Homo sapiens: one gene and its partners. The protein of the gene in region 1 interacts with the protein of each later gene in a pairwise test. Each region holds a gene or a part of one and is shown in the gene's direction. Other genes may lie near its edges.

Region 1 (3,652 bases):
GCCTCCCAGGTTCAAGTGATTCTTCTGCCTCAGCCTTCCGAGTAGCTGGGACTACAGGCGCCTGCCACCACGCCTGGCTAATTTTTGTATTTTTAGTAGAGATGGGATTTCACCATATTGGCCAGGCTGGTCTCAAACTCCTGGCCTCGAGATCTGCCGGCCTCGGCCTTCCAAAGTGCTGGGATTACAGGCGTGAGCCACTGTGCCTGGCCCTTTTTAAGAGGGTCTCACTCTGTTGCCCACGCTGGAGTATAGTGGTGTGATCATAGCTCATTGCAACCTCCAACTCCTGGGCTCAAGTGATCCTCCCACCTCAGCCTCCCAAGTAGCTAGGACCATGGGTGTGCACCACCATGCCTGGCTAATTTAATTTTTTTTTTTTTTTTTAAAGAGACAGGGTCTTGCTTGCAACATTGCCCAGGCTGATCTTAAATTCCTGGCCTCAAGTGATGCCCTACCTTGGCCTTCTAGAGCACTGGGATTACAAGTGTGAGCCACCATGCCCAGCTATACCAGTGGGCTTTTAAATGGACATTTCTTTACCTCTGGGGATAGTCTCATTTTTGTGAGGCTCCCAAGGGGAAAGCAGCCATCTGACCAAACTAGAAAACTAGCAGGCTTCAGCCCAGTGGAATAACATAAAGTAGGACAATCGATACAGACAACATTGATTGGCCATGCTTTGAGTGCTGTGGATAGTGTGTATTGGAAGCTTAAGGGGCCAGCTCATAAGTAAGTTGTAAGTAAGTATTTAAGGATGCTTTTTTTTTTTTTTTTTTTTTTTTGAGACAGAGTCTCACTGTCACCCAGGTGTGAGTGTGATCTTGGCTCACTGCAACCTCTGCCTCCCAGGTTCAAGTGATTCTTGTGCCTCAGCCTCCTAAGCAGCTGGGATTACAGGTGCTTGCCACCATGGCCGGCTAATTTTTGTATTTGCAGTAGAGATGGGGTTTTACCATGTTGGCCAGGCTGGTCTTGAACTCCTGACATCAGGTAATCTGCTCACCCCGGTCTCCCAAAGTGCTGGGATTACAGGTGTGAGCCACTGTCTCTGGCCTAAGGTTGCTTCTTGTTTTTCCCCACACCCCATCTCATACTCATGGGGAGTTGGGTTTGACTGTATTCTTGAAGTTAAGTCTCCATCCTTGGACCCAGCTGCTAAAGTCTAAAATGATTGTGTTTTGGGCTGGAAGATATTATAGAGATCTTTATTTCCTTGCAAACATCAGGGCTGGCTGTTTGTGGTACTGTGGATGAGTGAAGAGTCAGGAGATACACTTCTAGTTCTGTTACTGCCCAATGCCTCCATTTTGCATTTGATAGGTTTTTATTTTTCTGACGACAAAAACTGAGCCCCAGAGAAGTGAAGTGGGCCACGTAATGGTAGGATCTTTTTTAGGCCACCCACATAATAGTGGGACTCTAGTGTTAGAGCTGGGACACAGGCTAGGGGTCTTACAAAGGGTGGCCATAGAAGTTGTTAGAATTGTTTAAAGCATTGTAAAGATGCAGGATGCTTTTGCAGTTAAAAGTCTCCTGGGAAGGAGGAGGCCCTGTCTCCACTTACTGCCTTGTACATGATCTTATACCCTCATGGTTGAAGATTTTTGCTGTCGTGCTGTTTTTCCTCCTACTCATGTCGAAATGTGTTTCTCTTGCTCTTACCTCAGAGGAAATGAATTTGAAGCCTTCCTCCGTGTTAGAAACAAATAGTGCTCAGGCCAGACTTGTGTGTTTCTGTAAAGAATGAGGCCAGATGTAACAGTGGACCTTATCTGGTGATCCAAGCAAACCTTCAAGACATCTCTAAGAGAAAGAGAGAAGGAATGAGTGTATTTCAGAGTGGTTTAAACACACTTTGGAGTCAGACTCACTTGTATTTACGTTCTGATATCTACTTACTAGTTGTCAGATTGTAAGTTACTTATTTTCTCTAAGCCTTAGTTTTATGATCTGTTGAATGGGAATAGTAATATGTATTTTTATAGCTATCTTAAGAATTCAGAGAATAGATATGGTGCTTCCTCTGGCACAATGTAAAACAGCAGTCCCCAACCTTTTTGGCACTAGGGACTAGTTTCATGGAAGACTATTTTTCCATGGACTGGGGGATGTGGGGGATGGTTTGGGGATGATTCAAGCACATTATATTTATTGTGTACTTTATTTCTGTTATTATTATTTTTGAGACAGAGTCTCACTCCATCACCCAGGCTGGAGTTCAGTGGCACAGTCTTGGCTCACTGCAACCTCTGCTTCCCAGGTTCAAGCAATTCTCCTGCCTCAGCTTCCTGAGTAGCTGAGATTACAGATGTGTACCACCACACCCGCTAATTTTTGTATTTTTAGTAGAGATGAGGTTTCACCATGTTGACCAGGCTGGTCTTGAACTCCTGACCTCAGGTGATCCACCCGCCTGGACCTCCCAAAATGCTGGGATTATGGGCATCATGCCCAACCTATTTCTATTATTATTACATTATAGTATGTAATGAAATATACAACTCACCATAATGTAGACTTAGTGGGAGCCCTGAGCTTGTTTTCCTGCAACTAGACGGTCCCATCTGGGGGTGATGGGAGACAGTGACAGATCATCAGGCATTAGATTCTCATAAGGAGTGTTCAACCTAGATCCCTTGCATGCACAGTTCACAATAGAGTTTGTGCTCCTATGAGAATCTAATGCTGCCACTGATCTGACAGGAGGCGGTGCTCAGGCGTTAATGCAAGCGTTGGGGAGCAGCTGTAAATACAGATGAAGCTTTGCTCACTCACTTGCTGCTCACCTCCTTGGATGGGTTTCTGATAGGCTACAGACCAGTATCGGGGGTTTGGGACCCCTGATGTAAATGCTCTGTGTTGTCATCATTATTGACAACAATAGTTTCCAGTTTCTGAGCCACGTCGTAGTTTCAGGATAGGTTATGCTGACCAAGCAAGTTTTATCTTAACCATCACCTCATTGTTGTCTTAGTTGGTTTGTATTACATATTATTTATACCAATAGTTATAGGTATTTCATGCTGAATAACTAAAAGTTGTGAGTAGCAAGGAACTTTGCTGCTTCTCTGCCATCTCCTTCCTTACTCAGCTTAGTGCTTATCTTTCTCAGGTTCTCTCTTGTCAGGTGCTCAAGCCAGCAGGCCTTGTTTCGGGGGCAGTGTCTGATGAGGGGATTTTATTGGGGTAGGGCTGGCTAGTCCAGAGCCTGCCTGGTCCCTCAGATAGTATGTTCTCCTTATCTCTTGCTTTCTGCTCTTCAGCCAGACATGAAGCAATTAGCTCATCAAGGGAATGTTGACTTTTGTCACTGCTTTCCTCTGATTTGTATGCTCATTTCTGGTCCTTGTGCAAAGTCACGGAGGCACAGTCACATACACTGACCCAGATTTTGTGCTCAAGTTGACTGTCTCTCTCTTTGAGATGTACAACTGGTTCCATGTAGCAAGGGAGTGAGGAAAAAGCCCCTGGAGCCAATCCCATTATTTTGATCTCAAGTTGAGTTTTTAAAAAAATCCAAGCACTATGACTATAGACCATGCCTCACTTCTCTGTATGAAACAAATAAGGTAAAAAAAACTCACTATTTGGAGGGAAGGCCAATCTGAATTGGTAAACAATAGGAATTAGTACATTCAAGAAAATGCCA
Region 2 (3,652 bases), on another chromosome or scaffold:
ACAGACAGTTTGAAGAAAAATGTATGGTTTAGGAGTAGTGCTTTTCAAACTTTTTTATTGTAACCCAACTTAACAAGTAAATTTTCCATTGTAACCCTGGACACATACACCGCACACACATACACACACACACACACACACACACACACACACAGCACATACCTGTGAATGAAAATTTTTCATGAAATGATTATTATTATACTTATTTTTCGTCAGCTGCTCTGCAATAAAGTCTGTTTTGTTTTGTTGTTTGTGCAAAAGCTGTTTTGTTCCAATTCATTGATTTCACATGCCATTGGTAAATAGAAACCCACAGTTTAAAAAAACGAACCAAACAAAACCTGGTTTAGGGAACTGTTGTTTCATGGAGCAAAAGTTTCTAAAAGGTGTATTTGGTTTAACTCGCTGAGTGTTTTTATAAAAAGCTTTTCTCTATGACTGACCTCAGCTTAAAGATCTATACCACAACTTACTAATAATGAGTTCCATGTAAAACTAAGCAGAATTCACAACTCTTTTGGGGTTCAGGTTATTCTATCATGAGACTTCTCCTTAAAGCTTCTAACCCTCTTCAGCCATTGCTTTAAGGCAGCCTGACTAGATTAAGTAAACAGAACTTGAACACAATGACTTAACTATACTTTATAAATTCATGATTGTTAAGCCACAAAATCAACCTTTCCAAATAAAACTGAGTGTAAGTCAAACTGCCAAGCGAAAAGAGCAGCTATGGAGCTCTCAACTCTCCCTTTTGTCATAGTTTATCTCTGTACAATGCCAGATAAAGCCCAGATGAGGAATAAAGTGATGTGACTATTGCTTTATACTTATTAAATCTCATCCGTTATTGTGGGACCATGCTGCCATCCTCCTCACCTGAGGTGCCCGATAATGATCACCCTAGCGGGGGGTTATAAGGCACCTTTGTTCGAAAGAAGTTTATAGAATTGGACTCAGAAAGGTACAGCTTGCCCTCCAGGGAAGCAAAGGAGAAAATTATATTTAATGCATATTAAACAAACAATTGTTGGAGATTATAAGCTACATCGATTCCAAGATCCCAAAATACTTGAGTCAGCTTACTCCAAAATGTTACCAGCCAGCCACTTTAAACATTAATGAGGTAGCTGGTTTCTAAAATCTGGAAGGAGGAGGAGGTTTTGTTTAAGCCAACTATTTCACAGAAGAGGAAATACAGTTCGACCTCAGGAAATTTAAATGAGACTGCTGAATAACTGGGAAAGAACATCTCCTGTGGATGACAGGGCAAAGAAGAATTAAGCTGATTTTAGGCCAAATAACAAATGTGACAGCTGTGCTTTTTTGTGTATGTATTGGTGTGTGATAGTGTATAATTTCTAGAAAAGCAGTTCTCATGCATTTGGGTCTTGAAAATTTCCACTTTTAAAAATTATTGAGAACTCCAAAGAACTCTTGCTTCTGTAGGCTGTATCTATCAATTTTTACCATTTTAAAAATTGAAACTAAGAAATTAAAAAAATATTGATTGAATCATTAAAAAAACTGTATTAACATAAAATATTTTTATTTAAAACATTGTTTTCAAAAAAGTTATTGAGAAGAGTATTATTGTTTTATATTACTGCAAATCTATTTAATACTTGGCTTAATAAATGGCACCTAGATTGTCATCTTTTCTCCATATACTCTATTGTGTTATGTTGTTTTGGTTGAAGTATGTGAAGCGAAGTTAGTTCACACAAATAAGTAATTGGAAAAGAGAGAACCTCATAGTCCCCTTAAAAGGATCTCAGGGGACTCCCAGGGATCCTTGGGGCACACTTTGAGAGCCACTGTCCTGAAAAGTAGTTTGGAAGACTATGTTAAGAATGGCTGTCCAGGAGTGGTGAGATTATTCACGATTCTTTTTTTCTTTTCTTTTCATTAGTATTTATTTTCTACAAGAAGATGGATTGCTTGTGCAAACTAAAAATGAGAAAGAAAGAACATACTCATGTTGAGGGCAGATTATGGAGGCCCTGGAAAAACCCAGGCAGAGGAGTTTACACTTGGGAGACCAAGGAGCCACTGTCATTTCTTAAATGGGAAAATGATAAGAGCTGTGTTTGGGAGTAAGTGAATTCGAATTGAAAGAGAGAAAGAGAGATGCTACTTCAGAGAAGTGGTGTGGTGAGTCAGACCTCAGGTGTTGGCAGAAATGGAGAGAAAGGACAAACTCCAAAGACTTTGAGGGCAGAATGACCTGAGACCTGGATATAGGAAATACAGGAGAGGGCAGAGTCAAAGACAACAGTTTTAAAATTAAAACATTTGAAGAATGTTTTTTCCCTTCTATCCAACTTTGGGGCCTGGTTCTGTTGCTCAGGCTGGAGTGCAGTGGCGCAGCCTTGACCTCCTGGGCTCGAGCCATTCACCCACTTGAGTAGCTGGGACTGTAGGTGTAGATTGCCTCTTTCTATCCAACTTCAACTTTTTCTGAATGTTACTCCGATTAAGCTAATTGAAGTCTTGTCGTGTTTTCCAGAGTTGGCCACCCTGTTCAAGGGCTTAGGAGAAAGTCAACACACTTCGCAACTTGAATTGGTCCCAGCTGCTCCCAGAAGAACGGGCGGGTTGGTCCCTATGCCACCCCTGGAGAGCTACTCGCCGCCCACTTTGCCGTGAAGGGCTGTGCGGTTCCCGTGCGCGCCGGAGCCTGCTGTGGCCTCTTATGCACTCCACCACCCCCATCAGCTCCCTCTTCTCCTTCACCAGCCCCGCAGTGAAGAGACTGCTAGGCTGGAAGCAAGGAGATGAAGAGGAAAAGTGGGCAGAGAAGGCAGTGGACTCTCTAGTGAAGAAGTTAAAGAAGAAGAAGGGAGCCATGGACGAGCTGGAGAGGGCTCTCAGCTGCCCGGGGCAGCCCAGCAAATGCGTCACGATTCCCCGCTCCCTGGACGGGCGGCTGCAGGTGTCCCACCGCAAGGGCCTGCCCCATGTGATTTACTGTCGCGTGTGGCGCTGGCCGGATCTGCAGTCCCACCACGAGCTGAAGCCGCTGGAGTGCTGTGAGTTCCCATTTGGCTCCAAGCAGAAAGAAGTGTGCATTAACCCTTACCACTACCGCCGGGTGGAGACTCCAGGTGGGTCGTCTTTACGACGTCAAGGTTTATTTTCAGAGTGAAGGTCGTGTGCCCCATTGATGGAGAATGATGGGGCACCAGCAGACAGGGACCTCTCCCAAAAGAGAGAGAGAGAAGAGAGGAGAGGGAGGTTCAGTTTTGAGGGACTCGTCCAAAATTTTGTTTCCCGGAATGAGGCAGCTGTCCAATCAAAGAAAGTTCCCATGAAAACGATATTCCTGCCTGGAATGCCACAGGAACACTCAATCCAAAGAGAATCGCAGTAAAACCCTGTTATAGCCAGTGTGAAGGAATGAAGATAAACTAGTCAGGAAAATCTAGAAAGAAGATATTTTCATTTGATTTCATTATGCTGGTAAGCTTTGTGTGATTTTGAAAATGAGGCAGATGGCTAATCGGAGAAAACTGCCATAAAAGTTTTATTTTGAGGTATCTGGGACAAGTCAACATAATCTTTTACCAGTTCTTGGGGTCCTGAAAGGTTTTAAAATGGCCTTGATAATGATGAGCTGTAAAAATTAAACATCCTCCTCCCCCCGCCCCAAACA
Region 3 (3,652 bases), about 74 Mb from region 1:
AGTTTATGCGCATAGGACTGTTTATACTATTCTTTGATGGTTGTTTGTATTTCTGTGGGGTCAGTGGTAATATCATTTTTGATTGTGTTTGTTTGAATCTTCTCTCTTTTTTCTTCATTAGTATAGCTAGCGGTCTATTTTATTAATTTTATCAAAAAACTAGCTCCTGTATTCATTTTTTTTTTTTTTGAAGGGTTTTCTGTGTCTCTATCTCCTTCAGTTCAGCTCTGATCTTGGTTATTTCTTGTCTTCTGCTAGCTTCGGGGTTTGTTTGCTCTTGTTTCTCTAGTTCTTTTATTTGTGATATTAGGTTGTCAACTGGAGATCTTTCTAGCTTTTTGATTTGGGCATTTAGTGCTATAAATTTCTTTCTTAACAAGAATGAAATTTTAGCTGTGTCTGAGATTCTGGTATGTTGTATCTTTGTTCTCATTCAAAGAAGTTCATTCTTCTCATTCAAGAAGTTCTGCCTTAATTTTATTATTTACCCAAAAGTCATTCAGGAGCAGGTTGTTCAATTTCCATGTAGTTGTGTGGTTTTGAGTGAATTGAGTGCCATGTGGTGATGAGAAGAACGTATATTCTGTTGTTTTTGGGTGGAGAGTTCTGTAGATATCAGGTCCACTTGATCCAGAGCTGAGGTCAGGTTTGAATATCTTTGTTAGTTTTCTGTCTTGATGATCTGTCTACTATTGTCAGCAGAGTGTTAAAGTCTCCCACTATTATTGTGTGGGAGTCTAGTCTCTTTGAAGCTCTCGAAGTACTTGCTTTATGAATCTGGGTGTTCCTGTATTGGGTGCATATATATTTAAGGTAGTTAGCTCTTCTTGTTGAATTGAACCCTTTACCATTATGTAATGCCCTTCTTTGTCTTTTTTTTTTCTCTTGAGACAGAGTCTTGCTCTGTCACCCAGGCTGGAGTACAGTGGCGCAATTTCAGCTCACTGCAACCTCTGCTTCCTTCTTTGTCTTTTTTGATCTTCTTTGGTTTAGAGTCTGTTTTGTCAGAAACTAGGATTGCGACCACTGCTTTTTTCTGTTTTCCATTTGCTTGGTAAATTTTCCTTCATCCCTGTATTTTGAGCCTATGTGTGTCTTTGTATGTATAGTGGGTCTCTTGAATACAGCTCACTGATGGGTCTTGTTTTTTTATCTGGTTTGCCATTCTGTGTCTTTTAATTGGGGCATTTAGCCCATTTACATTTAAGGTTAGTATTGTTATGTGTAAATTTGATCCTGTCATCATGATGCTAGCTGGTTATTTTGCAAACTTATGTGGTTGCTTCACAGTGTCACTGGTCTGTATACTTCAGTGTGTTTTTGTAGTGGCTGGTAACAATTTTTCCTTTCCATATTTAGTGCTTCCTTCAGGAACTCTTGTAAGGCAGGTCTGGTAGTAATGAATTCCCTCGGCATTTGCTTGTCTGAAAAGGATCTTATTTCTCCTTTGCTTATGAAGCTTAGTTTGACCAGATATGAAATTCTGGGTTGGAAATTCTTTTAAGGATGTTGAATATGGGCCCCCAATCTCTTCTGGCTTATAGGGTTTCTGCTGAGAGATCTGCTGTTAGTCTGATGGGCTTCCCTTTGTAGGTGGCCTGGCCTTTCTCTCTGGCTGAATGGCAGGGTTCTTAACGTGTCCATGTACCTCCTGTGGGAAAGCCATGGATGGACTTTAGGAAGCTCATGGATTTTTCCAAAATTATATATAAAAATCTGTGTACATGTGTATGTGTGCATTTTTCCAGGGAGAGCATCATATTTTTCATGAGATTGGCACAGGAATCTGCCAATATATGAAAGGTTAAAAACTACTCTCTTACATAAAAGTGGTCCTAGGAAGATATCTAACATCTGCAGTTTGAGTATTTGGCCATTGTGGTTCCCTAGCTTGCCCCTCAGCATTGTCTGCCTTGTTTTCTATCTTTAGAGTTTATTTGATATAGATAGATAGATATAGATATAGATATCTCATGTGTTTGTCTTCTATTCTTACAAAACAACAAAATAATGTATGGGCCTTTTTGAGAACATACACGCTCTGGTCCAATATGTGGTAACTTTGATTTAGTGGGTTTAGGATGTTACCAGGGCATATCAAGCTCCTGGGGTGACTGTATACTTTGGATGAGAATTATTCTATCCATGATATGCCCTTGGAAGGCAGGAATCAGTTTTTATTCATCTTTTGTTTCCTTCAAAAAATGTGTCTTGCATCCATTAAATCTTCTGTTGAACTGAAATGCACAGATGACTCATTCCCAGTGAGATAAGTCTTTTTAGCAACTGGTAGTTTTTATTTTTCCCTTATCAAATTTCAGCCTTCTTACCATGCTAGCAAATACATGTTTTGTAGATCTTGTGACTTCATTTTTTTTTTTAAGAATGGTTACCCATTCTAGGACTCAGGTTATGGCATTGTAACAAGATGTGAAAAATGGAATTCTTTTAGTTTCAGATTTGGCTTAGGCTCCAAGCTGCTATGTACCAAAATAAGGTGTGAGACCACCATGTAGGAGTTGCAAAAGATGGGGATAAAAAACATGTTTTGTGACTCATAAAAAAGGCCAGGTTGATGGAAATTAAAACATGATTTTTGGAGAGAGCTATTAGAGTTTTAGGGCTCCCTATATGAAGGAATTAGGGAGGCTTGCTCTCATCTCAAGCCCTCACTGAGAAAGGGCTTTTCTGGTACAGAGACTTTCTACCTGATAGTTCAACTGGATAGCCAGTGGCAGAATTAGCTGTGTGGTTTGGGCAGTTACTGTACTGATGAGAGTGGAGCAGAGGTGTTTCCTGTGGACCAAGGTGAGCACACACAATTGTGAGAGAGTGTGTCTGAATATGTTCAAGAGGCTTTCCTGGAAGTGTGACAGGATCCCAACACAGAGAATCTCTGGAGGACTGCCAAGAACCTAAGACTGAAGGGAAAGTCATAGCATCCATCCAGAGGGTAAATTACCCTTTTCAAAGAATAGGTAAGAAATCTCCAGGGCCTAGGGAAAGGAGAAGTGTCTGAAGAACATGAGAAAGTACCCCATAAGAGAACCACAGTAGTTTTTGAATACCTTGCAAACTCAAAAAGCACCAATGCAAAACTAGTAAGATAATACCAGTCATCAAATAAGAACTTTGCTGCTCCTTTCACCTTTCCCTCCATTTAACCCTCAACCTGGAGGGCCACAACTCTTAATCAGCAAGCTGAGGGAAGAGGACTGGAAGTACTACAGGATAAAGAAGCACTATAGGCCTTGGTGTGCTGGCTCACACCTGTAATCCCAGCACTTTGGGAGGCTAAGATGGGCGGAGCACTTGAGGTCAGGAGTTCCAGACCAGCCTGGCCAACCTGGCGAAACCCCGTCTCTACTAAAAATACAAAAATTAGCTGGGCATGGTGGTGCATGCCTGTAATCCCAGCTACTTGGGTGGCTGAGGCAGGAGAATCACTTGACTCCGGGAGGCAGAGGTTGCAGTGAGCTGAGGTCATGCCATTGCACTCCAGCCTGGGTGACAGAGTGAAACTTCATCTCAAAAAAAAAAAATAGCCCTATAGGACAGCGGTCCCCAACCTTTTTGTAACAGGGACTGGTTTCATGGAAGACAGTTTTTCCATGGACCATACCGGGTGTAGGGGGTAGGGGCAGGATGGGGA

Evidence for each region.
Region 2: the proteins of SIL1 (region 1) and SMAD9 interact in a two-hybrid assay, tested with the Homo sapiens proteins (one large-scale study listed by BioGRID and IntAct).
Region 3: the proteins of SIL1 (region 1) and SGTB interact in binary tests that used the Homo sapiens proteins (3 or more experiments, as listed by UniProt).

Annotation. Positions count from the first base shown.
Region 1 is NC_000005.10:139,188,355-139,192,006, reverse strand, and holds part of SIL1 (nucleotide exchange factor SIL1 precursor), read left to right. Parts: intron 1-3,652.
Region 2 is NC_000013.11:36,878,730-36,882,381, reverse strand, and holds part of SMAD9 (mothers against decapentaplegic homolog 9), read left to right. Parts: intron 1-1,604; exon of another isoform or gene 1,605-2,093; intron 2,094-2,506; 5' UTR 2,507-2,692; coding exon 2,693-3,104; intron 3,105-3,652. UniProt on the Homo sapiens protein: Transcriptional modulator activated by BMP (bone morphogenetic proteins) type 1 receptor kinase. SMAD9 is a receptor-regulated SMAD (R-SMAD).
Region 3 is NC_000005.10:65,673,552-65,677,203, reverse strand, and holds part of SGTB (small glutamine-rich tetratricopeptide repeat-containing protein beta), read left to right. Parts: intron 1-3,652. UniProt on the Homo sapiens protein: Co-chaperone that binds directly to HSC70 and HSP70 and regulates their ATPase activity.